Linked DNA regions of Homo sapiens: region 2 is linked to region 1. The links come from fine-mapping of genetic effects on gene expression. A gene starts in region 1. The other region holds a variant in brackets. All regions are shown on one strand. Distances are between the middles of the regions. Region 1 holds the start of UBA2 (ubiquitin like modifier activating enzyme 2). Region 2 holds the start of HPN (hepsin).

The links.
Region 2: its variant is fine-mapped to the expression of UBA2 in whole blood (INTERVAL, PIP 0.98).

Annotation. Positions count from the first base shown.
Region 1 is chr19:34,419,143-34,435,321 of GRCh38, forward strand. It overlaps UBA2 (ubiquitin like modifier activating enzyme 2), which reads left to right and starts at 9,239. Exons shown (of 17, transcript NM_005499.3): 1 at 9,239-9,428; 2 at 11,434-11,517; 3 at 12,719-12,789; 4 at 14,206-14,270; 5 at 15,726-15,826. The coding sequence starts at 9,291. It overlaps PDCD2L (programmed cell death 2 like), which reads left to right. Exons shown (of 7, transcript NM_032346.2): 6 at 2,377-2,525; 7 at 6,848-7,026. The coding sequence ends at 6,978. LOC124904695 (a long non-coding RNA gene) reads right to left here and starts at 9,222. Exons shown (of 2, transcript XR_007067232.1): 1 at 8,980-9,222; 2 at 6,964-7,259. It also overlaps the pseudogene RN7SL154P. RefSeq lists silencers at 9,127-9,366, 9,397-9,506, 9,577-9,736.
Region 2 is chr19:35,041,514-35,056,924 of GRCh38, forward strand. HPN (hepsin) reads left to right here and starts at 208. Exons shown (of 13, transcript NM_001384133.1): 1 at 208-359; 2 at 940-1,009; 3 at 7,777-7,878; 4 at 7,962-8,003. The coding sequence starts at 994. The variant C/G (reference allele first, on the strand shown) is at 4,187.

The DNA.
Region 1 (16,179 bases):
GGGTTAATTGTTTTTTGTTTTTTGTTTTTTTTTTCTTGAGACGGAGTCTTGCTCTGTTGCCCAGGCTGGAGTGCAGTGGCACGATCTTGGCTCACTGCAACCTCTGCCTCCCAGGTTCAACGATTCTCCTGCCTCAGCCTCCTGAGTAGCTGGGATTACTGGTGCGCACCACCATGCCTGGCTAATTTTTTGTAGTAGAGACAGGTTTCGCTATGTTGGCCAGGCTGGTATCAAACTTTTGACCTCAGGTGACCCGCCTGCCTTGGCCTCCCAAAATGCTGGGATTACAGGCATGAGCCACCGCACCCCACCATGTTGGGTTAATTTTATTCTGTTATTGTTTTTTCCTCCATTTCCTTTTTTTTTTTTTTAAAGAGATGGGTGTCTCACTATGTGGCCTAGGCTGGTCTTGAACTCCTGGACTCAAGCAGTTCCCTCACCTCAGCCTCTCAGCTTCTCAAAGTGCTAGGGTTATAGGCATCTGTCACCACACCTGACTTTCCATTTGGTGGGGTTTTTTTGTTTTTGTCTCTGTATTCCTTTTATTTAACCTGCTTGTCAGTGACTTTGAGTATTTTTAGTTTACTATTTTGTTCCTTTTTTGTCTTTTATTTTTAACTCTTTATGTTGCTTTTTTTTTTTTTTTTTTTTTAAGAGATTGGGTCTTGTTCTGTTGCTTGCGTAGGCTGGAATGCAGTGGTGCAGTCATGGCTCACCGCAGCCTCAGACTCCTGAGCTCAAGTGATCCTCCTGCCACACTCTCCAAAGTAGCTGGGACCACAGGCGTGCACCACTATGTCTGGCTAATTTTTGTATTATTACACTATGTCTGGCTAATTTTTGTATTATTATTATTATTCGAGACAGAGTCTTGCTCTATCATCCAGGCTGGAGTGCAGTGGAGCAATCTCAGTTCACTGCAACCTCTGCCTCCCAGGTTTAAGCGATTCTGCAGCCGCGGCCTCAGCCTCCCCCACAGCTGGGATTACAGGCACCTGCCACTACGCCCGGCTAATTTTTGTAGTTTTAGTGGAGATGGGGTTTCACCATGTTGGCCAAGCTGATCTCGAACTCCTGTCCTCGAGTGATTCACCCGCCTCAGCCTCCCAAAGTGCTGAGATTACAGGCCTGAGCCACGGTACCCGGCCTACCTTGTCCACTAGGTTTTTTTTTTGGTTTTTTTTTTTTACATATTCATTACTGGTATTTTAAAGTTTTTGTCTGATAAATTTATCATCTTGTCCATGGGTCTCCTTGCATTAACTTTCTTTATGGGGTAAATTTTCCTGCTTCTTTGCATGTTTAGTAACTTTTAAAATGATTTACCAGAAATTACATATCGAACAACAGTAATATTGAAGTGAGCTGGATGTGGTGGCTCACACCTGTAATCACAGCACTTTGGGAGGCTGAGGTGGGAGGATCACTTGAGGCCAGGAGTTTGAGACCAGTCTGGGCATTATAGCAAGACCCTGTCTCTACAAATTTTTTTTTTAAAAACTAGCTGGGTATGGTGATGCGCCTCTGTGTTCCCAGCTACTCAGGAGGCTGAGGTAAGAGGATTGCTTGAGCCCAGGGGGTCAAGGCTGCAGTGAGCTGTGATTGTGCCACTGCACTCCAGCCTGGGCAACAGAAAAAGGCTTTATCTAAAAAAAAAAAAAAAAAACCCAAAAACTGAAGTGAATGTTTCCTCCCTCTAAGGCAGAGGTCCCCAACCTTTTTGGCATCAGGGACTGGTTCATGGAAGGCAATTTTTTCACAGACTGAGGTGGGGGATGTGGGGCATGGTTTTGGGATGAAACTGTTCACCTCAGATCATAAGGCTTTAGATTCTCAGAAGGAGCACACAACCTAGATCCCTTGCATGTGCAGTTCACAATAGGATTTGCGCTCCTATGAGAATCTAATGCTGCTGATACGACGGGAGGTGGAGATCAGGTGGTAATGCTCGCTTGGCTGTTGCTCACCTCCTGCTGCATGGCCCTATTCCTAATAGGCTACCAACCAGTACTGGTCCATGGCCTGGGGGTCCATGGCCTGGGGGTTGGGGACTTCTTCTCTAAGGCATGCCCTTTCCTCTGTAAGGCCAGTGATGTGGAGGGCTGATTCCATTTAATCTGCAGTGGAGCTGAGTCTGGACTTTGTTGCAGCTTTACCTAGATTCAGTTGAACATTGACTTTAGTGCCTTTGAGACTTTGAATCGAACACTGACAAGATTTCCAGATATCTTGCTATGCTTTACAGCCATGGTGCTAGGTTTTTGGGCCTCTGGGAGATTTCTGCAAGAAACAAAGAAAGGTTGCAAAGCATGGCCTTAGATGCTAGAATGCGACTTGTGTGGCTCTGATTCGGGGTTCTTTGTTTCCTTGTCCTAGGTATTCCTGGAGTGGAGAGCCACTCTTTTTGACCTGCCCTACATCAGAAGTCACCGAGCTCCCAGCCTGCAGCCAGTGTGGAGGCCAAAGGATATTTGAGTTTCAGCTTATGCCAGCACTGGTCAGCATGCTCAAGAGTGCTAATTTAGGTGAGAAGCCCTTTATTAATTTGAGTTTGTGGATTTCTGGCATTATTTTTAAATAAATGAAAAACCTTTTGTTTACTTATAAAATATCATAAGCAAATTACAGAAAATTTGGGAATTAAAAAATTATTTTAAGAAATTTAGGCCAGGTGTGGTGGCTCATGCCTGTAATCCCAGCACTTTGGGAGGCCAAGGCGGGTGGATCACAAGGTCAGGAGATCGAGGCCATCCTGGCCAATGTGGTGAAACCCTGTCTCTACTATAATATAAAAAATTAGCTGGGCGTGGTGGCACGTGCCTGTAGTCCCAGCTCCTTGGGAGGTTGAGGCAGGGAATCGCTTGAACCCAGGAGGTAGAGGTTGCAGTGAGCCAAGATCGCACCACTCTACTCCAGCCTGGCGACAGAGTGAGGAGACTCTGTCTCAAAAAAAAAAAAAGAAATTTATAATCCAGCCAGTCTTTTTTTTTTTTTTTTAATATTTATTGATTGATTTATTTATTGAGATGGAGTCTCTCTCTGTCGCCCAGGCTGGAGTGCAGTGGCACGTTCTTGGCTCACTGCAACCTCCAGCTCCCGGGGTCTAGCAATTCCCCTCCCTCAGCCTCCCTAGTAGCTGGGATTACAGGTGCCCGCCACCACGCCCGGCTAGTTTTTGTATTTTTAGTAGTGATAGGGTTTCACTGTGTTGGCCAGGATGGAATTTTTGTATTTTTTGTAGAGACAAGGTTGCGTCATGTTGCCCAGGCTGGTCTCGAACTCCTAGACTCAAGCGATCCTCCCGCCTTGGCCTCCCAAAGTGATTACAAGCATGAACCATGCCTGGCCAGAAATTAAAACTATTATCAATGTTAATAACCATTATTCCAACAATCATTTTTGACATAAAGACAAATAGCAAGTCAGATGAATGTATGGATGGCTAGACGAAAATAATTTTCCTAAAATAGGAAAATTCACTAATATGGTAATTAAAAGTCTTAGAACAAATTTTTGTACAAATTAACAGAAGGAATGTTAAGTATAAGTGAAGCAGTTACTGGATTTTTTTTTTTTTCCTTCTTTTTTCTTGAGACGGAGTCTTGCTCTGTCGCCCAGGCTGGAGTGCAGTGGCATAATCTCAGCTCACTGCAAGCTCCGCCTCCCGGGTTCATGCCATTCTCCTGCCTCAGCCTCCCAAGGAGCTGGGACTACAGGCGCCCGCAACCAAGCCCAGCTAATTTTTTTTTGTATTTTTAGTAGAGACGGGGTTTCACTGTGTTAGCCAGGATGGTGTTGATCTCCTGACCTTGTGATCCGCCCACCTCAGCCTCCCAAAGTGCTGGGATTACAGGCGTGAGCTGCCACGCCTGGCCTGGACTTTTGGTAATAGGTTCTTTACCTAAGAGGCCCAAGTTTCTGAAAGGTGCTTCTGCTATTAACAGAAAATAACATTCTTTCTGTGTTTCAGTTTTAGATAGTATGCATCTGGCTCCTTACCATAGTAGATAAGGAAATTTATACCCTATTCCTACCTTGAAATATTTCAGTATCTTTTTTGTTTTTTGAGACGGAGTTTCACCCAGGTTGGAGTGCAATGGTGCTATCTCGGCTCACTGCAACCTCTGCCTCCCAGGTTCAAGTGATTCTCCTGCCTCAGCCTCCTGAGTAGCTGGGATTACAGGTGCCCACCACCACACCCAGCTAATTTTTTATATTTTTGGTAGAAACAGGTTTCACTGTTGTTGGCCAGGCTGGTCTCAAACTCCTGACCTCAAGCTCCCGACCTGCCTCGGCATCCCAAAGTGCTTGGATTATAGGCATGAGCCACCGTGCCTGGACCCAGTATCTTTTTTTTTTTTTTTTTTTTTGAGATGGAGCCTCACTCTGTCGCCCAGCCTGGAGTACAGTGGCACTATCTCGGCTCATTGCAACCTCTGCCTCCCAGGTTCAAGCGATTCTCCTGCCTCAGCCTCTTGAGTAGCTGGGATTACAGGCGCCCACCACCACGCCCTGCTAATGTTGTATTTTTAATAGAGACGGGGTTTCGCCATGTTGGCTGGTCTTGAACTCCTGACCTCAAGTGATCCGTCCACCTCGACCTCCCAAAGTGCTGGGATTTACAGGCATGAGCCACCGCGCCTGGCCAGTATCATAATTATCACAGCTATTTGGATAGCCTTAGTTCTATGTGTAAATGGATTCAGTGTTTATCACCACTCTTAGAGTGAGCTTTTTTATTCCTGTTTTATTTTGATTCTTTTTGCAGTAGCTGGATTTTCTCAAGTAATAGCTTTAAGGAGGGCTCAGAGGTATCTTGCTTCAGATTGTGCATGGTAATGTGGCTTCATATTTGAGGGGCAACCCATGTATAAAATTTTTAAATCCCACTTTCTCTTTTCAGAACCTTGTATAGACCCCTGTGTTGTCTTCTGACAGTGAAAGCCCTGCCAGCCCTTTGCCCTGGTGCCTCCTGTCATTTCTTGGTGGTTCAGTCTCACTGGGAAATATATTTTTCTGGAAGGGCTTATGGGCATTCTAGTCTCTGAGATTTTTCACTCATATAGAAATGTCTTTTGCATGGAATGTAGCTTTGTAGAGGTATGAGGGTGGTCTGATTTTTTCCCCCTTTGTGACTAACATTTTTGCCACAATACTGTTAGCAGCGGTGAATCTGTAGGGGTCTGTAGCAACCTCAGTTCTTGCCTCCTCCGAAGAAAGAATTTGACCGAGGCACATAAGACAGAGGAGAGACCGAAGCAAATTTTAGAGCAGGAGTGAAAACTTACTAAAAAGTTTTAGAGCAAGAACGAAAGGAAGTAAATATAGTTGGAAGAGGGCCAAGCAGGCAACCTGAGAGATTCAAGTGTCCATTTGACCTTTGACTTGGGGTTTTATACTTCCTGGGTCTTGGGTTACTTCTCTTGTTTCTTCCCTTGGGGTGGGCTGTCCACATGCATAGTGGCCCTCCAGCACTTGGGAGAGGCCGCATGCGCAGTGTGTTTACTGGAGTTGTAGACTTGCTCACTTGAGGCGCTTTTCCCTTACCAGTCAGATGCTCCTAGAGGAATGTCATATACCAGTTAAACTCTGCCATTTTTTCATTTTTTTTTTTTTTTTTGAGACAGAGTCTCACTCTGTTGCCCAGGCTGGAGTGCAGTGGCACAATCTCTTCTCACTGCAACCTGTGCCTCCCAGGTTCAAGCAATTCTCCTGCCTCAGCCTCCCAAGTAGCTGGGATTACAGGTGCCTACCACCACGCCCAGCTAATTTTTTGTATTGTTAGTAGAGACGGGGTTTCACCATGTTGGCCAGGCTGGTCTTGAACTCCTGACCTCAGGTGATCCATATACCACAGCCTCCCAATGTGCTGGGATTACAAGCATGAGCCAATGTGCTGTGCCCAGCCAATGCATACATTTTTAAACAATGTATTTCTCCTTTGCTGCTGCAAATCATTGCCTACGTCATCCTCTTGACTCCTGCTTTTCTGTTCTAATATCAGGAGTTCTTATTGCTTATGTTTTCTTGGTATCTTTTTTTAATGGCTTTATTCATTGATAATTTTCTGTAAACTCTTAGGGTTTATTTTATATTTTTTGCCTGAATCCTTATCCTTTCTCGGCAGTAGTGTGTCCTATGATATATATTTCTCTCTTCTTTTTTTTTTTTTTTTTAAGACAGGGTCTCGCTCTATCACCCGGGCCAGAGTACGGTGGTGCAATCATAGCTTATTGCAGCCTTTATCTCCTGGGCTCAAGTGATCCTTCTGCCTTAGTCTCCTCTGAGTAGCTGGGACTACAGGTGTGCACCGTTACACCCAGTGAATTTTTTTTTTTTTAGTAAAGTCTCACTGTGTTGCCCAGGCTATATGAGATATATATATATTTTGTTTGTTTGTTTGTTTGTTTTGTTTTTTGTAGAGACAGGTGTCTCACTATGTTGCCTAGGCTGGGCTCAAGCTGTCCTTCCCCGTCGGCCTCCCAAAGTGCAGGGATCACAGTTGTGAGCCACCGCACCTAGCCAAAAGCTATGTATATCACATGAACCATGTAGATTAATATAGATTTTCAACATCAGATAGCTAGACAGTTATAATGAACACTTGCTGAAATTTTTGTTTATTTTTAAAGTATATTTTCCTGCCACTTTAAATTAATTTTGCTTTTTTGTTATCAATATTCACTTATTATAGGATAGACTGTGATTCTGTTATAGCTGAAAGCAGTAAGCACTGTTTTTGCTTTACCTAATTACTTTTTCAGCTTATAAGGTAAAATCATTCCTTTTAGTAACATCAGTCTCATAACTCTTTTTGCTGGAAGCCTGAATATGTGGTATTTTTCAGGTCTTTCTGTGGAATTTGGAACAATTCTAGTTTACACATGTGAGAAGAGTTGCTGGCCCCCAAATCATCAGACTCCCATGGAAGAATTTTGTATTATACAAGAAGACCCAGATGAATTATTGTTTAAGTAGAGCATTTCCTTTTATTAATATAAATTAAAACAAATGTTTACATCCAAATATGTTTGTATGTACCTTATTTTAACTCACAAGTTATTAACCTCTGTTTTTCTGAGTTGCCTTTTTGCCTTTGGGTGCTGGTGCCGGGGCCGGGGCCGGGCCAGGACCTCCTGACTGTGGGTTGGTCTGCCCTTCCAGGGTCCAGGGCCAGCTGTCACAGTGGCAGCTAGGAAGGTAGCTCCTCTCTAGTCCAGAGGGCTGGTGTTGTCTGCACAGCCGTTCTGGTGGGCATTCTAGGGGGGAGGAGAGCAGCGAAAGAGCCAAGAGCAGTGGTCAGCCTCTTGTGTACACCTCTGACACGTGCACTCCAGTGCTTCCTATGCTGTTTCTGGCACCTGATCAAGCCACTGAACCTGCTCTAGCTGCTGGAGGTTTTTGCTCTGTGACCCTGGCTGTTTAGACCTGCCCATGTTCATCAGCCCAGGTCCCCGCCCTCACCCACTCCCATCTTCTGCTCCTGCAGTATCCCAGGAAGGGGTCTTTACTCCGTTCTGGAGACTGTCCCTTTATCCAGCTGCCTTCCAGTCTTCCCCTTTCTTTATTTTTAACATGATCAACCCCTTCCCTTCAGCCCCATAACAGCAGTATAAAAACACTCCCAGCCATGTTCAGACATGCTCTGCCTACGTAGATGAGGATAATGAGGCCTAGGTGATCATGGGGTGGGCTTGTTTCTTGCATTTAACATTATATTTGGAGCATTTTCCCATTAATATTTTTCCCACAACATAATTTATAATTGCTCTATTTTTTAAATATACATCAAAAGCTTTATACAATTTTTAGCCACTTGTATTTTCCAATTTTTATTCCCATGATGGCCATCCCTGTAACTAAATTTATATATATTTTAAATCAATGATAACTGCTACAGGACAGTTTCCTAGAATTGGAATGAATGAGTCAAAAGTTGTGCACAATTTTAGGGTTTTTTTTTCTTTTTTTTCGAGACAGGGTCTTGCTCTGTCTCTCAGGCTGGAGTGCAGTGGTAAGGGCATAGCTCACTGCAGCCTCGACCTCTCAGGCTTAAGTGATCCTCCTGCCTCAGCCTCCTGAGTAGCTGGGACTACAGGTGCAAGCCACCACGCCCTCTAGAGAAGCTTTGCTTTGGAATCTTTACCTGGAGTGTGTTGGAGTGCTTGTTTCCCAATCCCTTGATAAGTGTTACTTATTTTTTCTTTCTACCAGTTTAGTAGGTGAAAAACTTTTTTTTTTTTTTGAGACAGAGTCTCGCTGTATTGCTCAGGCTGGAGTGCAGTGGTGCAACCTCCGCCTCCTGGGTTCAAGCAATTCTCCTGCCTCAGCCTCCTGAGTAGCTGGGGCTACAGGCTTGTGCCACCACCCCCAGCTGTTTCGGTGTTTTTTTTTGTTTGTTTGTTTGTTTGTTTTTTTGAGACGGAGTCTGTTGCCCAGGCTGGAGTGCAGTGGCGCGATCTCGGCTCACTGCAACCTCTGCCTCCTGGGTTCAAACGATTCTCCTGCCTCAGCCTCCCGAGTAGCTGGGATTACAGGCGCACGCCACCACGCCCGGCTAATTTTTGTATTTTTAGTAGAGATGGGGGTTTCACCATGTTAGTCAGGCTGGTTTCAGAACTCCTGACCTCGTGATCCACCCGCCTCGGCCTCCCAAAGTGCTGGGATTACAGGCGTAAGCCACCGCGCCCGGCAGGTGAAAATCTTACCATTTTGCATGGTTTACATTTTTTTCTTTTTTGAGACGGAGTCTTGCTCTGTTACCCAGCCTGGAGTGAAGTGGTGCGATCTTGGTTCACTGCAACCTCCACCTCCAGGGTTCAAGCGATTCTTTTATGGTTTACATTTTAATACGCTTATTGATCATATTGTCCAATTTTTTGTGAGTTTCCTGTTCACATCCTTTGCCTATATTTTTTTGGGGGTGACACTTGTTAATTTGTAAGAGCTCTTTACGTATAGGGACATCAGTTTTCTAACCTGTAAGGAAGTCTTGGCTGGGAGTTGAAACCCCAGGCTAGAAGGCGACCCTTAGACTTTTTAGGTCTGATGGCGGGCCTATGCTGGTGTGGGAATAACACCGCCGGTCTCAGCTGGAGGTCGCCAGCCCTTTGCAAGAGCCTGCCGGTCCCCGCGGGCTGCAGCACACCCCGGCGCGATGTGCCCTGCCTGTGTCTGCCGGAGGCTGTAGTGCGCAGGAGCGGAAACCAGGCCGCCCTTCCCCCACCCGCTTCCGGCCGCGGCTCGGTTCTCCCGCCTCCGCCTCCGCCGCGGCTCGTGGTTGTCCCGCCATGGCACTGTCGCGGGGGCTGCCCCGGGAGCTGGCTGAGGCGGTGGCCGGGGGCCGGGTGCTGGTGGTGGGGGCGGGCGGCATCGGCTGCGAGCTCCTCAAGAATCTCGTGCTCACCGGTTTCTCCCACATCGACCTGGTGAGGGCCGGGCGCGCGCGCGTGAATGGCGGGCTGTGGTGCGGGGGCTGGGATTCGGGGGTTCCGGGGCTCCAGGGGCTCTGAGGCTCAGGGCCCGGAGCCCGGGACCGGAGTTGCGGAGCGGGGGCAGGCTGAGAGGCTCGGGTTGTGCCCCCCCCGCGGGAGGAGACTGTTCTTTGGGCACGGGGCGGGCCTCCGCTCGCTGGGCCGGCTCCGGACGCCGAGGAGGCCGCGGGCCCCCGCCTCCCCGGCAGCGCCAATGTGTGGCGCTTCGTGGGCGTGAAGCCGCCTCTTATCCTCCCTTCAAAACAAATTCCCGGCTGTTAGGAGATGCGGGAGAGGATTGAGTCCCTCGCGGATGTTGTGACTTTAATTTTGAGGTCCCTGTCGTAACTCCGAAGTAACGACGCGGGGCGGAGGATGGCAATGATAGCGACCAACGCGTCCCGAGCGCTGGTCACGAGCGGGTTTACACACGGAACGCGCACCATCTTCATACCACCCGAGGAGTGCAAACGCTATTTCCACCCTGCTTTATTTTTAACAGATGAGGAAAGGGAGACGCAATGGGGTTGAGTAACTTACCCTGGGTCACGGAGCGAGTGGCAGGGCTCCCGCAGGCTGCGTGACTGTCATTGCTCTCACAGTAGACGGTACACTCGCTTGTTTCATTAAAGACGTTAGGACTGTGCCTTTTGCATTGGTGTACGTTGACAAGCCAGTGCTATTTTGAATCGTTATTTCTACTAATGCAAACTTTTTAGAGATTGGAGATGTTACTGGCCCTTCGGTGTGAGTTTAAAGTGTCTTAAGGGCTAGTGGAAACATGGAATGAACAAAAAAGTACGGGTGGCCGACTGAGTCATTGTTTCTTTCCTTTATGTATTATATATTTAAGCAAAAATTAGATAAAACTTAAAACATGATACTTTTTTAACCATGTGTAAAAGTTTCCTTTCACAGTTCTCAGGTTAATAGTAAATGAAATTGTGTATGGATGAAGGCTTGAATTAAGGGAGGCAGCAAAAATTCAATAAACGTTTGCCATGTATCATTTAAGAAAAAGAACAGAACCTGGGCAACATAGAGAAACCCCGTCTCTACAAAAAAAGAAAATTAGCGGGGCGTGGTGGTGTGCGCCTGTGGTCCCAGCTACCCGGGAGGCTGTGTCAGGAGGATCGCTTGAGCCTGGGAGGTCGAGGCTGCAGTGAGCTGTGTTTGCACCACTGCACTCCAGCCTGGGCAACAGAGGGAGACCCTGTCTCAAAAAACAAAGAAAAAGAACAGGGCATAGTTAAATTTAATATTTTGTACTTGAAAGAGTAATTCGATTGAAAGAGAAATACTTTAGTATTTTTTGAGACAGGGTCTGGCCCTGTCACCCTGGCTAGAGTGCAGTGGCCCGATCTCGGCTCACTGCAACCTCCGCCTCCCAGGCTCCAGTGATCCTCCACCTCAGCCTCCCGAGTAGCTGTGACTACAGGCATGTGCCACCTAATTTTATTTTTTCTATTTCTTGTAGCCACCAGGGTCTCACTATTTTGCTTAGGCTGGTCTTGAAGGTCTGGGCTCAAGCGATTCTCTCACTTTGTCCTCCCAAAGTGTTGGGATTACAGGTATGAGCCACCACTCCCGGTGTAGAGAAATATGTTAATATATTTTCAGTTAGTGTTTACCTCGACAGCACATATAGTTTTAATGAATTCACATATTTTTATGGCATCCAGGGAGTTTCCTGAAATATTTTCCAGGATGATTAAACAAACAAAATATACCATTCTTTCAAAGTATTTTTGAGAAGTTTATCTCTGACATTAAATCTAGATTCTTACATGCATTAAATTATTCTTTATCAGTTTAACAATTTTGGTATGGCGATTCGAAAAACGCTTTCTCCACTAATGTAGCAGATATCAAAAGTTCTGGATTACAGGTGCTGAGAGTAGTGATACAGCTCAAACATACGTAAACGTTTGTCATTTATCTGGGGTTTATGCATTTGTAGATTGATCTGGATACTATTGATGTAAGCAACCTCAACAGACAGTTTTTGTTTCAAAAGAAACATGTTGGAAGATCAAAGGCACAGGTAACTATATTTCTCATACCATTTCTATAACTTGATGGAGCTTCTATTTGTGATACCAGATTAATCCTGCCTGTCATATAGGAGGGAAAAAATGGGTGAAGCTCTCATTTCAGCTGAGAGATTGTGAAGGATAAAGATATATCAAGTAAAGGACTAAAGATTAAGCCCTCCTTTTTTGTTCTAAAAAGGAAATAATCCCGTGATGGTGTAACTTTCATGGCCTCTTTATATTTAAGTTTCTGATGCTTTGCTTAGGATGCACCTTGTGTTCCTACACCCCCTAGAGGTTGACTACTGCTATGTTTGGGGGCTAGAGGAGCGTTATGCTGCTGTCCTAGTTGAAACAAGACAGTTCCCCCGATCTTTGTTTAGTTTTTTTAGTGTTCCTTGGTGATTCAGAGTCTTAAAACATCTTTTCCCTTTGCCTGTCTCCCAACCTGTTTGGCAAACCCCCACTTGTTTCTCTTTTTCTTTCATATTTTGGCTTCCTCCTCCAGGAGTACTTTCCTAAACCTTTTAGACTAAGTCAGGTTGGTTTTTCTCTCATAACAACCTTTACTTTACTTTTCCTATCATTTTCTTTTCTTTTTTTTTTTTTTTTTTTTTTTTAGAGATAGGGTCTCACTCTGTCGCCCCAGGCTGGAGTGGAGTGATGCGGTCATGGCTTACTGCAGCCTAGAACTCCTGGCCTCAAGGGATCCTCCTACACTGGCCTCCCAAGTGCTGGGATTACAGGCATGAGCCACCATGCCTGGCCTTTTCCTGTCATTCTCATGGCATTTATCAGAGTCTGTAGTTGAACTTAATCTGGATTGTTATTTGATTAATGTCTCTCTTGCTTGACATGTACGTTGTATAGTTCCTGGTACATGCAAGATGCTCAGTAAATACTTGTTAAGTGAATGAATGAATGACACTTGGTTACTTCATGTTGTATTTTTGCTGAAGCTTGCCATTCATGTAGAAGTGTGTTTGGTGGTACGTGGGTCAGGGGGGGCTCTCCGGTTATTTTATAAGTATAAAAGTATAATTTTATAAGTGTAGCTTAACCCTAATGCAATTTTCTCACATTTTTGGACTTCTTTGGTGTTTAATATAAATAAGGTACTATGTAAGTAGATAACAGCATTGTGGCTTCCAGAAGCAGATTTCAGATAGGAACAGAAATATTGTAGTAATTCAGTGTTGTTTATTTTTCCAGGTTGCCAAGGAAAGTGTACTGCAGTTTTACCCGAAAGCTAATATCGTTGCCTACCATGACAGCATCATGAAGTATGCTATAGTGATTACATTGCAAAGTTGTATAAGGGTTTTGTAAGCCAAATATATAAGCTCAAAGTCATTCAGCTTTTTTAAAAAAAATGATTTTTCTAGAATTATTAAACAGTGGTGGTTTCTGCTTACAGAGTGGCATTCTTTTTACCAGTTCATAAATACATGGTTTGAATGATTTAGAATGGTGAGATAGTTTAATACTTTTAATAAATAAGTTACTTGGAAATTTATAAAGACCTTATATGCTTGCCTTAAGTAAGAAGATATTTTAAACTATGAAATATCCTTATTTATGATGATTCAGACTTTTCTAAAGTGTTTGCCTTTTTTTGTTTAAAAGTTTCCCTCCCAAAATAATCTGTAGTATGACTCTGACTTCTGTAATATAACACTTGGAATTGTGGTAGGGCAGTAGTATTGACAGTACATAAATATATTTATCTCAGTAAAGATAGAGTAAATATATAATTTTGGAGGAGTTGGAGCAAAGGAACTGTGGGCCGAAATTGTCCTTTATCTATGGTGGTTTAGCTTGCAAGTAAATAGTGTTAAAAATAGTCCTTGTTTGAGGTACTGGAATTGAGGTACTTAACACTTTCTCAGGGCATTTGTATCTCCGGATTGTGTTTTTTTTGTGTGTGAGATAGGGTTTTGCGCTTATTGCCCAGGCTGGAGTACAGTGGCATGATCTTGGCTCACTGCAACCTCCGCCTCCTGGGTTCAAGCGATTCTCCTGTCTCAGCCTCCTGAGTAGTTGGGATTACAGGCGCACGCCACCACACTCAGCTAATTTTTGTATTTTAGTAGGCGGGGTTTCATCATGTTGGCCAGGCTGGTCTCAAACTCCCGACCTCAGGTGATCCACCCGCCTTGGCCTCCCAAAGTGCAGGGATTACAGGCGTGAGCCACTGCACCCGGCCTGTATCTCCGGCTTGTTTTTTAGTTTTTTACTCTGTGAACCTGCCTGTAGCCCTATAACCTCCTTACCCTGTGTTGCTTTCCCAGTGCTGCTAAAAACAGAGACCCTAGGGGCCTGAACCCTGCCTGATCCTGATCATGTGAGGTGAAGTCAGAGGCCAGGCAGATCCTGGGAATGTGTTCTTTATGCGTTCCCAGGCACTTGCTGCCCAAAGAAGGCCTAGTGGGACTAGTGAAGTCATGCCATCTTTCTGCCAGTTTGAGATCTTTCTCTTGTGCCCTAGCTGGCCAAAAAGGATAGGAATTTGAAGGAAATAATTTCTTTAAAATCTGCTTATGTTTGGAAAGAGTCAAACCTTACTATCTATATGACATATAATCCTGATATCAGTTTTGTTTACAGTTACTATGTTTTTTTCAGAACTGTTTATTATACTGCAAAGATCATGTGGAAGGCTAGTTATTTTGGTGACCTTTTTTTATTTTGTTTTGTAGCCCTGACTATAATGTGGAATTTTTCCGACAGTTTATACTGGTTATGAATGCTTTAGATAACAGAGGTGAGGTTATTTTAATACTTTTAATTTCTCAGTATTTCCTCTCTCCCATATCAAATTTGTTTACAAATTTAATATTTATTAGACTATTGTGATTTAGAACTTAAAAGACTTAAGAGAAATGATCGAGTTTAAAGCATGCCCATTGATTGCAGTTTTATATAGAAATGACTTATTCCAGGCGGGAATTTAGCTATCATATTCTCTGCATTTCTACCAAAAGGTATAAATAGAAGTGAAGTGAAAAGCTCTCAAAAAGTGTGACTGTGGCTCAGCACAGTGGCTCACGCCTGTAATCCCAGCACTTTGAGAGACCAAGGCAGGAGGATCACTTGAGGTCAGGAGTTCGAGACCAACCTAGTCAACATGGTGAAACCGTCTCTACCAAAAAACACAAAAATTAGCCGGTGTGGTGGCATGTGCCTGTAGTCCCAGCTTCTCCGGAGGCTGAGGTGGGAGAATCGCTTGAAGCCAGGAGGCAGAGGTTGCAGTGAGCCTAGATCACACCACTACACTCCAGCCTTGGTGACAGAGTGCGACCCTGTCTCAAAAAAAGAAAAAGTGTGACTGGAGGGTGGGGTGGGGGATGCTTGAGTGATATTCTTTGTCTGTAATTACTTCCACATGTAAAAGTATATCTACTAAGTGAGTTTACAACAAGTTGGGCCAGAAATATCTAAATAAAAAACACAAGGAAAAGTCAAAATTACGTTTATTTTTTAAGGCTTGGGGGGTCTCACTGTTGCCCAGACTAGAGTGCACTGGTGTGATCATAACTCACTGAAGCCTTCAAATGGGCTCAGGTGATACTCTTACCTCAACCTCTGCAGTAGCTACTCTGCAGACAGGTACCACCATACCCGGCTAATTTTTTTATGTTTATTTTTGTAGGGATGAAGTCTTGCTTTGTTGCCCAGGCTGGCCTCGAACTCCTGGCTTCAAGCAGTCCTCCCACCTCAGCCTCCCAGAATGCTGAGATTATGGGCATGAGCCAGTGCTCCTGGCGTGAAATTACTCTCTTAACCTGACTCATCTTTTTTCCCTAGCCTTAAACTACTTTAATAGTTCCAAGTTGATATTCCACATTCTGCCTTCATTTCTATCATGTATTATCTGCTAGTTATATTAGAATAGTGGTGAGTTTAGGAACACCTTGAAACAGTGTTTTGTGTAAGGTACAGCAATAGAAGAGAAATATGGCACGTTGGATTTTTAAGATTATGTGTTTCTGTGGGTACTTCTCCTGGAGTAAATTTGTGATATAAATTCTATTTGATATTTTGCTAAGTGAATGTCTCTTAAATGTCTGTAATTAACAGTTGTATTATTCTGGCCATAGCTATAAGAAAATTGTACAAAAAATGAAGCCAGTAAGATAGTTTTGAGTCTGTGTCATCCTAATTAAAGATAACTAATTTTTTTTTTCCCAAAAACTCATACTGTTTGTTTTACTTCCAGCTGCCCGAAACCATGTTAATAGAATGTGCCTGGCAGCTGATGTTCCTCTTATTGAAAGTGGAACAGCTGGGTATCTTGGACAAGTAACTACTATCAAAAAGGTAAAGAAAAGTTTTATTTTTTTAACTTCCCAAATATTTATTTGAGACCTTGGAGCAGGAGGAAATAAACTTTGTATTTATATAAAATGAACAGGTGAACATCCAAAATGTAAGGACTTTTATGCTTATATAAAACTTAAAATGCGGGGCCAGGTGCAGTGGCTCATACCTGTAATCCCAGCACTTCGGGAGGCCGAGGTGGGCGGATCACCTGAGGTCAGGAGTTTGAGACCAGCCTGGCAAGCATGGTGAAACCCCATCTCTACTAAAAATACAAAAATTAGCTGGACATGGTGGCCGGCGCCTGTAATCCCAGCTACTTGGGAGGCTGAGCCAGGCGAATCACTTGAACC
Region 2 (15,411 bases), 620 kb after region 1:
GCCAGGCCTGTCCCTGTTCCCACATCCCCGCAGACAGGCACACCTGGGTCCCCCTGGAGGTCCAAGGCAAGCCCCGTAGCTGGGCCCGCCTGGTCCAGCCCCCACAAGCCCGGCCCCATCAGCCAGGTGGCCTCCAGTGCTGCCAATCGAATGGTCCGGCCCCTCCCCGCCCCTTCACCCGCCCCTCGCCCAGCCCCCTCCTCCTCAGGTGAGGCAGCCTGGCCTAGCAGGCCCCACGCCACCGCCTCTGCCTCCAGGCCGCCCGCTGCTGCGGGGCCACCATGCTCCTGCCCAGGCCTGGAGACTGACCCGACCCCGGCACTACCTCGAGGCTCCGCCCCCACCTGCTGGACCCCAGGGTAAGGACAAGGGCCCCCAGACTCACAGTTCCAGCCCTGAGGACAGGGGTTCCCTCATCCCCCCACCCAGCCTAATGCCCACCTCCTAATAGAGGGGTTCCTGGGGACCTGAAGAGGGGGCACTATGACGTCCCCCCAAGCACCTAGGTGTTCTGTCCTGCTCTTCCTTCAGACTCAGCCGTTGGACCCCAGTCCTTTCCTCCCCAGACCCAGGAGTTCCAGCCCTCAGGCCCCTCCTCCCTCATACTAGGGAGTCCTGGCCCCCAAATTCCTCCTTTCCCAAGACTTATGATTTCAGGTCCTCAGCTGTCTCCTCCCTCAAACCGGGATCCTCAGTCCCCTGCTCCACCAGGCTCAGGCATGGGGGTCCCCATCCCTGCAAATCCAGGCGTCCCCCCGCTGCTGGTCAGACACTGACCCCATCCTTGAACCCAGCCCAATCTGCGTCCGTGATCACGGCGTGCTCTGGCCAAGGCCCAGTCCCTACAGCCTGCCTGGATGGACGCCTGGGACTGGGGGCGCCAGGACTGGGCTGGGCTGGGCTCCCCCAGGCCCTGCCTCCCCGTCCATCTCCTCACAGGTCCCACCCTGGCCCAGGAGGTCAGCCAGGGAATCATTAACAAGAGGCAGTGACATGGCGCAGAAGGAGGGTGAGTCCCCTTCCCTGAGCCCCAGCTTTGGCTCTGCCTGGCGCCCCGCCCTCTGTGCTCTTTTCTCTACCCTCTACTCTTCGGAGCCCCCTCTCTCTGGGCACCCCTCCCAGATGCATCCCCACCCCTGTTAGTCCTCCTCCACCTGATTAACTATTAACCACATTTTCTGTGCAGCTGTGCCACCACCAGCCTCCCTTCTACCCTATGTGACCTTCCTGGCGTGCTGCCTCAGTTTCCCCTCATCCCCCAGTGATTTCTCAGCTAACTCTGGACTTGTCCTCTGCTGGGGCTGAGGCGGGGAAGCTGTAGCTGTCATGGTTAAGGACACAGATTTGGAGTGAAACACACAGGCTTGCATTTGAATTTGCTCTTGCCATCTTTTTTGCTGTGTGATCTGGTGCAAGTGACATTATTCTTAGGGCTTTGGTCTCCCTCTGGGTCAAGCATGGATACCAGTCCTCCCTCTGTGAGGTTGCTGAGTGCATGACACACACCAGGCACTGGTCTGGGGCTCTGCATATAAGACGCATGCCATCAAGCAGAGCTGTCATGACAGAGGTTGGCAAACTCGGAGTCCCAGAGACCCAGGACCCCCACCGATCCCAGACATTCCTCCACCTCCTGGCTCTGTGGGCAAAAGAGCAGAGGGAGGACTTTGGACTGGGCCTGGATGGATGGAGAGGGGAGAGACGGCAGAGAAACCACCATAAGGATGAGAGAGAGAGACTGCGTCATGGAGTTGCTGGCCCTTGGGAGTCTCTGGGCAGCCCCCAGCTAGCCTGGCTTCCTTTCTACCTCTCACACATGGGACCCAGCTGGAGGGGCGCATGGAGGGGCGTCCTGTTCTTTCTGCCTTCCCCTAGCTGGGGCTGACTCCCTCTCTTCTTCCGCAACCAGGATAGCCGGGCTCAGTCCTGGGCAGTAGCACTTTCTAGCTGTGTGGCCCTGGGCAGACGGCGTGTTCTCCCTGGGCCTCCATTCTCTCATCTGTGAAATGGAGAGGGTGACAGTGCATGTCCAACAGCGTGGGGCGAGGCCTGAAATGCCAGGATGGGCAGGAAGCACTGAGCGTGTTGGCTGAAATGATTAGTTCAGATCTCTGGCCTCCTCGGGTCTCGGCACAGCTGGCAATTCAGACCCCAAACCAATCAGCTGCAGTCCAGAGGGAACCCAGGCTCCCAGTTACTCAGGAGAAGGCATTGCACCCTAGCCGAGCAGGTGGATGACAGAATCCAGCTCCTTGGGGACAATCTCTTTCCTGGAGCTGCCGGAAGGACAGCCCCAGGGCTTGGGCCCATGGGTGAATGAGCCAGGGAAGAAAAGCAGAAAATGCCCGAATGGACAGAGATGGCCTGGGTACAAAGAGAAACAGACACAAAGTGGGCTCTGGTGCCTCCCTGGCAGCTCCGGGCTGGTCTTGGAGGGGAGTCCTGCTGTCAGGGCTAGGGGTGTGGAGGTCGAACCTGGACACAGATGCTGAAGGGTTCCGATTCTGCACTTACTTGCCGGGTGACCCGGGTTTGGTGGCTGCCGGACTTTGGGCCTCCTTTTCTCATCTGTAAACTGGGGGTGATGGCAATGGCGCCTTCCTCGTGAACAGCTGCAAGGATTTAAGTAAGGATGCTGTGCAGGACTGGACGGGGTTAGGGTAGGGCGGTGCGTCCGTGTGTGATTCAGAGAGCCGTTGTGGCTGCAGCGGCTGCTGTTGTTGGTGTCACTGTTATTGCTGCTGGCTTCTTGGTGCTGCCTGGAAACTTGGAATTGGAGGAGGTGATACTGGAGTTGCAATTCCAAGGATGCCAGGCAGAGGGAAGAGCAAGGCTCTTGCTCTTCTCTGGGAAGCTGGGAGGTGACACAGCACTGGTGTGCACGTAGCCAATTGTGGTATTTCTGGAGGTGAAGCTGGAAGTTGAGCTGGGTGGGAGAAGAGGTGTGCAAGCTGGACCAGGCAGGGGTGGGACTGTTTTGGGGAAGAGCTGGCCAATTCCTTGCAGTACCAGGTCTCTCCACAAGGTGGCGCCAGTGGTTAGTCCCTGCTTCTCTTGTCTAACTTGTATTTTACAAGTTCTACTGTTTGGGTTGCTTTTTGGAAGCTCTCTCTGGTACCTGATAGTGACCCACATGGTTGTCTGAGAATTGGGGGAAACATACTCCCAAATCTCTGAAAGCCATGCTTATACCCTAGTGGGGCTGGAAATGCCAGGCTGAGGGACTTAAGCTGTCTGGGGGGTACTAGGGAGTCACAGAGGGTTCTATAGGTAAAGAGGGGACAGGTTGGATTTGGTGTCTCAGTAGGTTCCCCAAGCCTCCGTGTGGAGGGTGCGCTAGAAGGGAGACTGAGCCCAGCGGTTGGATGGGGCCGGAGCAAGGTGCAGATGGAGAGAAAGAAGGAAACGGGGGAAGGAGAGTCACTCAGGAGGATTGGCAGGCTGTCGGGGGAGGGGAATGTTATGCAGATGGGGATGGTCCTAGGAGTGAGGGCCTCTGAGACAGGACCGGGAGGAAGAATATACTTGGGGAGACATTGGGGAGACATTCTGGGACCTGGTAGGGGCAAAGGGACTAGGAGGTCCCAGGGAAAGGTATTTAAAAGGTATTTAAAGGACTGCAGGAGCCCTGACCTGGGACCTGGAAGAGGGTCTAGGGCTGGGGACAGAGGGGAAACTGAGTCCACAGAGGTGGGTGAGACAGACTTAGGGGCAAGGAGGAGCAGGGGGAGGCTGCGGCCAGCCCTACAAACTCTGGATTTTACGGAGTAGGTAGAGGGTGGGTGAAGACAGCAGCCTCAGAGGCGGGAAGGAAAATCAGGTGCGCCTGGTGTCCCAGAAGTCCAAAGAGGAGAGCATTTATACAGGAAGCTGCAGTCATGTAAGATGAGGCCCGAGACACGGAGCCACCAGTTGAGTGGATTTTCAGAGCCAGAGAGCCAAAGGTGTTACGCGTGGGGGTCTTTGCAGCCAAATGGTGGAGGCGGAAGAACTGACCTATGAGAAGACCCAAGGCATCCAGAGGGGCCTGGAGAAGCAGGGGCAGAGAGTCTCAGGGAGATGTAGGGGTGGGGGAGGTCTGGCTTACCAAGGGAAATAGCCCTGCTGCTGGGATCAAAGAATTGATGTTGACGTGCCGCCTGTCCCAGTAGAGACACGCAGGGAGGATGAGGATGCGTCCCACACC[C/G]TGGGCCAGATGAGGATGCTGCCTGTCCCAGTAGAGACACGCAGGGAGGATGAGGATGCGTCCCACACCGTGGGCCAGATGAGGATGCTGCCTGTCCCAGTAGAGACATGCAGGGAGGATGCCTCTCATACTGGGGGAACCCCAGGATGCAGATGCTTCCTGTCCCACTGGAGGCGCTGAAGTCCTCTGAACCACACAGCATGGAAGGAGGTTCTTCCTCTCACCCTAGGAGACACATACATAGTGGCATTGCTTCCTGTCCCACCAGATGTGCCAAGGCCTCTAGGCTGCATTCTGCATGGCCTAGAGCCCTGGCAGGCACAGCTGAAAACAAAGCAAGCAAGACCAGCCCAGTGGCTGTCGGGAGCCAAGACCTCCTGCTGGAACCTGGAGAGTGGTCCTGGGCAGAGTTGGGGGGCAGGCCTGAGAACCCCTCGCAGGACAGGCAGGGGTCAGCCGGCAGTAGTTGGGCTGGTCTGGCCCACTGGGGCCTCTTTTGGGGAAGAGAGTGTTTCCTCATGCCTTGATGGGAGCCACTGAGCTTTCAATTTTTTTTTTTTTTTAATACAGAGTCTCGCTCTGTTGCCCAGGCTAGAGTACAGTGGCGCAATCTTGATTCACTGCAACCTCCACCTCCCGGGTTCAAGCGATTCTCCTGCCTCAGCTTCCCGAGTAGCTGGGACTATAGGCGCCCGCCACCACACCCAGCTAATTTTTGTATTTTTAGTAGAGGCGGGGTTTCACCATGTTGGCCAGGCTGGTCTTGAGCTCCTGACCTCAAGTGATCCACCTGCCTCAGCCTCCCAAAGGACCGGGATTACAGGCATGAGCCACCATGCCCAGCCTGAGCTCTCAAATTCTTAAGACACCCAGATAATGGCCACACCAGGAAGGTCCTAGACCACTCCCTGCTCTGTTCCAGGTGCTGGCCTGGTGCCGGGTTCACCAGCCACATCACCATGGGTGCAGATGGGCGAGCTGGGAGCTCCTGCCACCTTGGGGTGCTTTGCGGCTGCCAAGGGCAGTTGAACCCAAGCCAGGCCCAGCTGAAGGCTTTCAGCAGCCTTTACTCTTTGGCCTTCTTATAATCCCTAGTGAAGGGGTTGGCTTTTATTTATTTATGTATTTATTTATTTATTTATTTTTTGAGACAGAGTCTCGCTCTGTCGCCCAAGCTGAAGTGCAGTGGCGCGATCTCGGCTCACTGCAAGCTCTGCCTCCCGGGTTCAAGCCATTCTCCTGCCTCAGCCTCCCGAGTAGCTGGGATTACAGGTGCCTGCCACTGCGCCCGGCTAATTTTTTGTATTCTTAGTAGAGACGGGGTTTCACCGTGTTAGCCAGGATGGTCTCGATCTCCTGACCTCGTGATCTGCCCACCTCGGCCTCCCAAAGTGCTGGGATTACAGGCGTGAGCCACCGAGCCCGGCTAGGAGTTGGCTTTTAATCTCCAGGACCTCTTTGCCCTGGGAATAAAATCCCTTTTCCTGTGCCACCAGGCCTCCCCAGCTGGCCCCAGCCTTGGTTCCCACTACCTTCCCCAAGCTCTGGCCATCTGGCCATCTCGATGGCCTCTCCAGCCTCTGACATAAGAGAGCCTGCTTATTCTTGCCTCAAGGCCTTTGCCTGTGCTGTTCCCTCTGCCCACAGTGCCCTTCCTTGTGGTCTGTGTGTGGCTGGCACCTCACCTTTCAGAGCTTAGCTCAGAAGTCTCCTCTAGGGGAGGCCCTGTGATCCCTGATCCCCTGCAGAAGCCCACCTGCTGCCCCAGCCTGCACGGTTTTCTTCACAGCCTCTGCCACAATCTGGAAATTATTGGGTTCATTTACTTGTTTCCTTGTTAATGTCTCCCACTCCCCACCTACACGCATGAGAACGTGAACCCCTGAGAGTCGTAACCTTATCTGTCTTCTTTGGGTTATGTTCCCGGAACCTAGAAAGGTGCCAGGCACACAGCGGATGTTCAGTAGGATGGTAAACAAATAAAGCTTCTTTAGGCTGATGAAAAAACTGAGGGTCAGGCGCGGTGGCTCACGCCTGCAATTCCAACACTTTGTTTGGGAGGCTGAGACAAGCAGATAACTTGAGTCTGGGAGTTCACGACCAGCCTGGTCAACATGGCAAACCCCGTCAATACAAAAAATACAAAAATTAGCCATGTGTGGTGGTGTGCGCCTATAATCCCAGCTACTCGGGAGGCTCAGAATTACCTGAGCCTGAGCGCTTGAGACTGCAGTGTGCCATGATCGCGCCGCTGCACTCCAGCCTGGGCAGCACAGTGAAACCCTGTCTCAAAAAAAAAAAAAAGAAAAAGAAAGAGAGAGAGAGAGAAAAAGAAAGAAAGAAAGAAAGAAAGAAAGAAAGAAAGAAAGAAAGAAAGAAAGAAAAGGAAGGAAGGAAGGAAAAGAAAAAAACTGAGGCTGAGGCTCAGAGAGGGGAGGGGAGTTGCTCAGGCCCACACATCTCTGATGATTTATAAAGCATTTATAGAGAACTTGCTATGTGCCAGGCACTTCCGCACAGTGAGAGCCAGGATGGCTTCGTGGCTGTACACAGGGGACCTGGCATCAAACCTGCCCAGGGTTCTGGACGCTGCTCTGCCTCTTCCAGGCTGTCACTGTGGGCACGTGACCCCACTTCTCTGAGCTATCTCAAAAACAGGAATCATAGTTGTGGGATTGAAATAAGGACTAAATGAGCTGATGTATTTAGAACGGTGCTTAGCACCTGGAGGCATCAATACAATTTGAGCTATTCTTCTTCTTCTTGAAAATAACTTTAAATTATTATTTTTAGAAGTAGGTGCTCAGTGGATGCCCATTTAATAGATAAGAAAGTTGAGGCTCAAAGATATGATGGCACCTGCCTTAGGTTCCAGCTAGGAAGGGGTAGGGTCAATATTTTTAAATGAGGCTGGCCAGACGCAGTGGCTCACTCCTGTAATCTCAGCATTTTGGGAGGCTGAGGAAGGAAGATCGCTTCAGCCCAGGAGTTTGAGACCAGCCTGGGCAACATAGCAAGACCACGTCGCTAAAAAAATTAATACATAAAATAAAATGAGGCTGGCAGATTTTCAAGTGGAGGGGCAAATTTGATCTTGCAACTGGGTACCATGAGAGAGGTCTGATTTAGGGGGTATCTAGGGGCAAAGCATCTAGAACAGCAGAAACGACTGAGGCAGCGAGGAAATGCCAGCGGCAGGGAAGAGAGCTACCAAGAGGGCAAAGGTTGGGGGTCACAGTCCCAAGAAGAGATGGCCCAAAGCAAAGACAGAAATACAAAAGCACAGTGTCACTGGGGAGGAGACATTCCCTAAGTGCCAGGAAAGTGCAGGGCGGAGGTGGAGACCGTGGCAGGTGGCCCGGCCATGCCCCCCTCCCAGCTGGAACCCTGGGGGAGCTGGGCACCTGGTTGTTCACACGGCAGGGGAGGAACAGCCCTGTCAACTGCTGGCCCCGGGAAACTGGGCCTGGGGAGGACATGCTTGGGCATAATAAGTTAGCCCTGGGGGCAGGGCAGAGCTGGCCTCGGGCCCAGACCCTGCCGCAATGAGGACAGGCCTGGCTGTGGCCCCAGCATGGTGTCTGTTGCAGGTGGCCGGACTGTGCCATGCTGCTCCAGACCCAAGGTGGCAGCTCTCACTGCGGGGACCCTGCTACTTCTGACAGCCATCGGGGCGGCATCCTGGGCCATTGGTGAGAGCGGTTCCTGTGCCTCTGACCTCCCCTGGCCCCTGCAGCCTCCAGCCTGCCTGCCCTCACCCCTCCCTTCTCTGCAGTGGCTGTTCTCCTCAGGAGTGACCAGGAGCCGCTGTACCCAGGTGAGTGGAGCAGGCTGGGACCCTCTGGGGGAGCCCTGGAGGACACGTGTATCTGGCGGGAGCTCAACAAGCGTATTTGTTGAATAAATGCACAAATGCATGCAGAAATGCTAATCATAATAGTGCATTTGTATTGAGTGCCTGCTATGTACCAGGCACTATTCTAAGCACCCCACATGTCTAACCCAGACTTTTTCAGACACCAGTGTATTACTCATGAGTGCCTCATAAAATTAAATTAGTGAGTTGGAAAACCATGTTTTTTTTTTAAGTATGAAATAGATTCGATTACAGACTATCACAGTACATCTCTCAGTAAGTAAAGGTTATGCTAATTTTTGTTTGTTTTTTTTTTTTTTTGCATCCATATACATGTAATCCCACTGCATCCCCACACTCTGAGGGTGGGACTGTTATTCTCCCTGTTTTACAGATGGGGAAACTGAGGCTTTGAGCAATGCAGCAGTTTGCCCCAGACTACAGAGCTATGGGCTACATCAGGATGTAAAAATGTGTTTCTTACTGCGTGGCATGGTGAAAACATGTTGGGGAGGCATGATATAAATTCAGTGGACCCTTCTAACTCTCCTAGGAGGTAGTTTTTTTGTTTGTTTGTTTTAAAAAAGAAAAAAGTCTTGCTCTGTCACCCAGGCTAGAGTGCAATGGTGCAGTCTCAGCTCACCGCAACCTCTGCCTCCCAGGTTCAAGCGATTCTCCTGCTTCAGCCTCCCAAGTACCTGGGAATACAGGCGTGTGCCACCATGCCCAGTTAATTTTTTGTATTTTTAGTAGAGATGAGATTTCACCATGTTGGCCAGGACGGTCTCTATCTCCTGACCTTGTGATCCACCCGCCTCGGCCTCCCAAAGTGCTGGGATTACAGGCATGAGCCACTGCGCCTGTCCCTGGTAATTAGCTCCATTTTACAGATGTGCAAAATGAGGACCAGAGAGGACATGCAGCTGGGGAACGAGGGGCCAGGAACAGCTCTTAGACTTATCCACTGTAAGTGTGTCTGCAGGCATGTGGAATGAATGGCCACACAAATAAATAGATAAAGAAACTAACTGTGGGATGAATGAATGAATCTTCCCAAATGCCAACTTCAAGCTGCCATTCCCTGATGCAGGACAGCAGGAAAAAAGGGGAAGTTGGGTGGTGGGATGTATTTTTCATGTCTGTGAGCCTCATCTAATTCCATAAAGGATTCAGTTCACACTAAAATCAGAAATGAAAATCCAGACAAGAAAAGCCAACATCAACATTAATCATCATTACCAGCACTTAGCATTTGTATGCACCAGCCAAGGCCTTGGGACCTTATGATATCAACTCATTAAGTCTTCCCAACAACCTGTTGTTTTTCTTTTCTTTTTTTTTTCTTTCTTTCTTTCTTTCTTTTTTTTTTTTTTTTTTTTGAGATGGGGTCTTGCTCTGTCGCCCAGGCTGGAGTGCAGTGACACGATCTTAGCTCATTGTAACCTACATCTCCTGGGCTCAAGCAATCCTCCCATCTCAGCCTTCTGAGTAGCTGGGACTATAGGCTAATGCCACCATGCCTACACAAAATTATTTTGTCAATAACAAATTATTGTTATTTTTATCTTTTTGAGCCAGAGTCTCGCTGTGTCGCCCAGGCAGGAGTGCTGTGGCGCGATCTTGGCTCACTGCAATCTCCATCTCCCAGGTTCAAGTGATTCTCCTGCCTCAGCCTCCTGAGTAGCTAGGACTACAGGCACGTGCCACCACACCCAGCTAATTTTTGTATTTTTAGTAGAGGCGGGGTTTCACCATGTTGGCCAGGATGGTCTCAAACTCCTGACCTCAGGTGATCCACCCGTCTCGGCCTCCCAAAGTGCTGGGACTACAGGCATGAGCCACCACACCCAACCTCATTTTTTAAATTTTTAGTAGAGATGGGATCTTGCTACATTGCCCAGTCTGATCTTGAACTCCTGAGCTCAAAGCAGTCCTCTCAGATCAGCCTCCCAAAGTGCAGGGATTACAGGTGTGCACCACCACAACCCATTTTCCTATGGGGATGCTGAGGCACAGAAAGGCTGAGTGACTTGCCCCAGGTCATGGAGCTAGTCAGTGTCAGGGCTGGGATTTGAACCCAGGCAGCCTGCGTAGTAACTGTATATAGTGTCTACACTTGATTGCTTGTTAAAAAAAAAAAAAAAGAACAGCTGAATTCATTGCCATAGTAAAGACTGACATATGCCAGGCCCTGGCGGCAGCCTTTACCCAGCAGGCCTATGAAGTTAGGGCTGTTACATCCCAACATTTTGCATTTGGGGGAAATTGAGTCCCAGTGAAGCAAACTGACTTGCCCGAGGCTGACCACACATCAGAGACAGAGCGAAGGGATCACGCCCCTGTCAAAAGCCCCTCCGTGACAACACGTGGCATTGAGATAAAATCCCAACCCATCACAGGCTCCAAGCCTCCTAGTGTGGAGGCCCCTCTCCACCCCCACCTCACACTGGCTTCTAGCACCCTCAGGGCCCAGTCCCTTGCTCAAATGACCTGCTCACACAGAAGTCTCTACTCACCCACTTCTTTCTAGCTCACACCCAGAGGCAGATTTCAGTTCTGCACAGTTCCTTCTGAGCTGTGGGGCCTCCCACCAGTCCCTACTCTCTCCAAGACTCAATTTCCTCATCTGTGAGATGGGGGTAAGAAGAATCAGTGGGAATAAGAGGAGATAAAAATCTGTGTAGTACTTGGGCGGGGTGCGGTGGCTCACCCCTGTAATCCCAGCACTTTGGGAGGCCGAGGCAGGCAGATCACCTGAGGTCAGGAGTTCGAGACCAGCCTGGCCAACGTGGTGAAACCTCATCTGTACTAAAAACACAAAAATTGGCCAGGCGTGGTGGCGGGCGCCTGTAATCCCAGCTACTCAGGAGGCTGAGGCAGGAGAACTGTTTGAACCTGGGAGGCGCGGGTTGCAGGTTGCAGTGAACTGAGATCACGCCACTGCACTCCAGCCTGGGTGACAGAGCAAGAGTCTGTCTCAAAAAAAAAAAAAAAAAAAAAGGCTGTGCAGTACTTGCCTCTTAGCCAGCACAGTGGACATTGGCTTTTGTATCTCACTCCTGAAATTCTTTCTTGAAATTTCTTGAGCAAGATCTTCCTGGACTTCCAGACTCTATGGCCTCTCACCCTATGGTGTGTCCCTGCCACCCCGGTAAAACCCTCCTCACTCATTGTGAATTATTTACTCCTGGCGAACTCCAGGAAGGCAGGGACCTTTTGTGGTCAGACGGTGCCTGGCACATAGTAGGTTCTCAGGAAATCCTTGAGTTATGAGTGCACCCAAAGCCAAAACACTGGGATGAACTAGAGAGTCATGGGCCTCCAGCTGGAAAGGAGCGAGGCCACCACTCACACCCGGCTCTGGCCAGCACCACGCCGCCACCCTGCAGAGGTATTTGGGTTTTTCAACAACTCAGGGAAATGATGAAACAAACAAACAAACAAAAACAACCCCAAGCTTGTATCCCCACCTCGCTTTTTTTTTCCTGGGATTTTCACACTTCTAAATATATCCAACAACTTGGCAGGCACACCAGGTGACCCAGAACATCCTTTTTGTGTTGCCTGAAATGATAGGAACAAGAATAAAGAATTTAAAAGTGAGAAACAGCAGCAGAGAGTGTGACTTTAAAAATAGCCAGAGGGGACATTTGATGTTCTCTCCCCACTCCCATCTCCCCCAACACACATCTATAAAGTGATTTTCCCCCCTAAAACCTCACACTTTCTGGAAATCACATTTCCAGAGCAGTTAACAGTCATTTTAAAATAAGAATCCACCCCTCTTCCTGCCCCAGCTGGTGTTTCAAACTCCAAGCCTTGGCTTTCATGGGGTGATGAGGACCCCCCAGCTAGAGGTGCCAGGCATTCCCTGCCCCAACCCCAGAGCAGGAGACCGTAATTAAGGCAGGCCAGGCCGGTGCGGTGGCTCACGCCTGTAATCCCAGCACTTTGGGAGGCCCAAATGGGCAGATCACTTGAGGTCAGGAGACCAGCCTGGCCAACATGGCAAAACCCCATCTCTACTAAAAATACAAAAATTAGCCGGGCGTGGTGGCTGGTGCCTGTAATCCCAGCTATTTGGGAGGCTGAGGCATGAGAATCGCTTGAACTCAGGAGGCAGAGGTTGCAGTGAGCTGAGATCGTGCCACTGCACTCTAGCCTGGGAGACAGAGCAAGACTCCATCTCAAAACAAACTTAAAATAGAATAAAATAAAATAAGAATCCGCCCCCCTCCCCGCCCCAGTTGGTGTTTCAAACCCTGAGACTTGGCCTTGGAATTCATGGGGTGATGAGGACCCCACAGCCAGAGGTGCCAGGCGTTCCCTGCCCCAACCCCAGAGCAGGAGGCCATCATTAAGGCAGGCCAGCCAGGTGGCTTTTCAGTGCCAGCCGTAGCTGAATATATTAGGCAGGGAGACAGGCAAGGGTTTGTATGAGACCCACAGAAGGAACAGGGAATATGCTGGTCTGGGTTCAAGTCCCGGTTTTGCTGGTTAGCCGTGTGCCTCTGGGCAAGTTTATTCCTCTGAGGCTTAGTTTTCCCATCTGTAAGATGGGCATAGAAGTGGTCACTACTGGCTGGGCACAGTGGCTCACGCCTGTAATCCCAGCACTTGGGGAGGCCAAGGCAGGTGGATCACCTGAGGCCAGAAGTTTGAGACCAGCCTGGCCAACATGGTGAAACGCTGTTTCTACTAAGAACACAAAAGTTAGCCAGGTGTAGTAGCATGTGCCTGTAATCCCAGCTACTCGGGAGGCTGAGGCAGGAGGATCGCTTGAACCTGGGAGGCAGAGGTTGCAGTGAGCCGAGATCATGCCACTGCACTCCAGCCTGAGCAACAGAGCAAGATTATGTCTCAAAAAAAAAAAAAAAAACCGAAGTGGTCACTATCTCCGAGGATGGTTGTGGGATTCAGAGAGCCACTTGGATAGGATGCATAGCATGGGGCCAGCCCACTGACACCCCCCAGTAAACGTAGCCAGTGCTATTATTACTGTGCTGTTGTTTAACCCTCCAGAGGGGAAGTCTCTTGAGAGGCTGTCCAGGGCAATGTTAAAAGCTTGGGGTTTGAAGTCACTCAGACCTGATTTCGAATCCTCTCTCCCTGCTTCTCGTGCATTTGGTGACGTTGGGGAAGCCACCCCACCTCTCTGAGCCTCAGCTTCCCCGTCTGGAATTTGGGGATGATCTTCGTGGCTCCTGGGGTGTGCGACGAGGCCTTGGTTGATGGTGGGGCAGAGGTAGCCTAGCCCCAGGAACACAGTAGGTCCTCAGCTGGGGAGAGTTCTACTTGGAAGTCTTGCTTCTCCTTGTCCCAACCTGCGGGGCTGTGGGAAGACCCCTCAGCTGGTGTGTGGCCTCACCAGGTTCCTTCTAAGAGGATGCAAAAGCAAGTTTTCATTTGACTCGGTTTCCCAGAATGTGCTCTCAGAGCCCAGGCCAGGCAGGAGGCTCTTGAGAAAAGGACAAAAAGACATGGTGGCTCACACCTGCCATCCCAGCACTTTGGGAGGCCAAGGTGGGAGGATTGCTTGAGGCCAGGAGTTTGAGATCAGCCTGGACAATATAGCAATACCCTGTCTCTACAGAAAAAAATAAATTTAAAAGGCGTTTTTAGCTCAGGCTTTGCTGGGTTCTAACCTGGCTATTGTCACTCAGCTTTATCCTAACATAAAAAAATAAACAAATTAGCAGGGTGTGGTGGTATGCCCCTGTGGTCCTAGCTACTTGGGAGGTTGAGGCGGGAGGATCGTTTGAGCCCAGGAGGTTGAGGCTGCAATGAGCTATGATCGTGCCACTGCACTCCAGCCTGGGTGGTGGAGCGAGACCCTGTCTCAAAAAAGAAAAAAAAAAGTGGCAGGGAGAAGGAAAGGAAAGGACAAAGAGGTTCACAGCTGATCTCTCCCTGAACCTGCTCCTTCCGTCCCCATCTCTGTCAGCCCCATCTTTTCAGGCTCAGGCCAAACCCCTCGGTTACCCTCCCAGTTCCTCCAGTCACCCATGAATCAGATCTTGCAGGAAACCCTGTCAGCTGCACCTACAGAACCTCTCCAAAATCTGAACTCTTCTCCCCGTCCACTGCCCCCACCCTGCTCCAGCCCCCTTCCCCTCCCCTCTGGACATCCCAGAGCCTCCTCCCTGGCCTCCCTGCTCCCATCCCTGCCCCCCAATCATATCCCACAAAGGGGATATGACTCACTCACTTAACCGGCAATTCTGGAGGGTCTTAAAACCTGGCTGCCTCAAGAGGCTTTAAAATGTTATCAGATGGGGGCCAGGTACAGTGGCTCATGCTGGTTCCCCACTTGCAGCCAGAGGGAGCTGGTGACCACCTGAGTCAGGTCAGGGCCCTCCCCTGGCTGCACCTCACACCAGGTGCCAGCAAAGCCCTGATGTTGCTCTATTTCTAGCTCCCACCTGATCTGCCCCTCCCTGGCTCACTCTGCTCTGGCCTCCCACTGTTCCTGGAGCACTCCCCCCAGTCCCCCACACCAGCCTTGGGATCTTTGCATCTGCAAGTCCCTCTGTCTCCGTGCTGATCTCACACACCTCCTGACACTTTCTCACCTCCTGCAGGTCTTTGTTCTTGCACCACCTTCCCAGGGACGCTCTCCTTGCAGCGACTGAAAAGTGCAACCTCACCCCACCCTCCATGCCGGCACTCCCCTCCCTCGGTGGCATTTTATTTTTCTCTGTGGCCCCTTCCTATCTTGTGACACATAATATATCCTACTTATTTGTCCCTTTCTTGATTTGTCTCACCTACTGAGCTTTGAGTTCCACAGGGGTCGGGGTTTTTGTCTGATTTGTTCATTGCAGTGGTGATTTGTTCACTGCCTAAAATAGAGCCTGGCAGGTACAAAGTGTTTGGTAAATAGAAATCAATACCCCAGGGTCTGTGACCTGACTTAGGTGTTAACAGGTTCCTCTGAGGTGTGTGGGGAACAGACTGAGGGGTTTCAGGGGACATCTGTTCTCACCACAAATTGCCCCCCAACCAGCCCCAGACATGAACAGTCTCCCGGGAGCTCCCTCTAGCCTTCTCGTATATCCCAGCCCTGCCTCATGTCACAATTTGTAATGATGTGTTTGGCTGGGTGACATTTTATGGCCATCTGTCTCCCTATCCCCTATAATGTGGTTTGCCGAAAGCAAAGCCCAGGACTGTCTCGGCCATCTGTGTCTCCAGGATCACCCCTCACTGGGCATGGAGTATGTGTCCAGTTAACGCTTGCTGAGTGAATGAATGAATACTCCATCCTCTGCCTGGAGAATTACGCACTTTAGCATATCCAAGGCTCTGACAAGTCCTGCATAAAAGAGCATTATTGTTTTCTTTCTTTCTTTCCTTCTTTCCCTCTTCT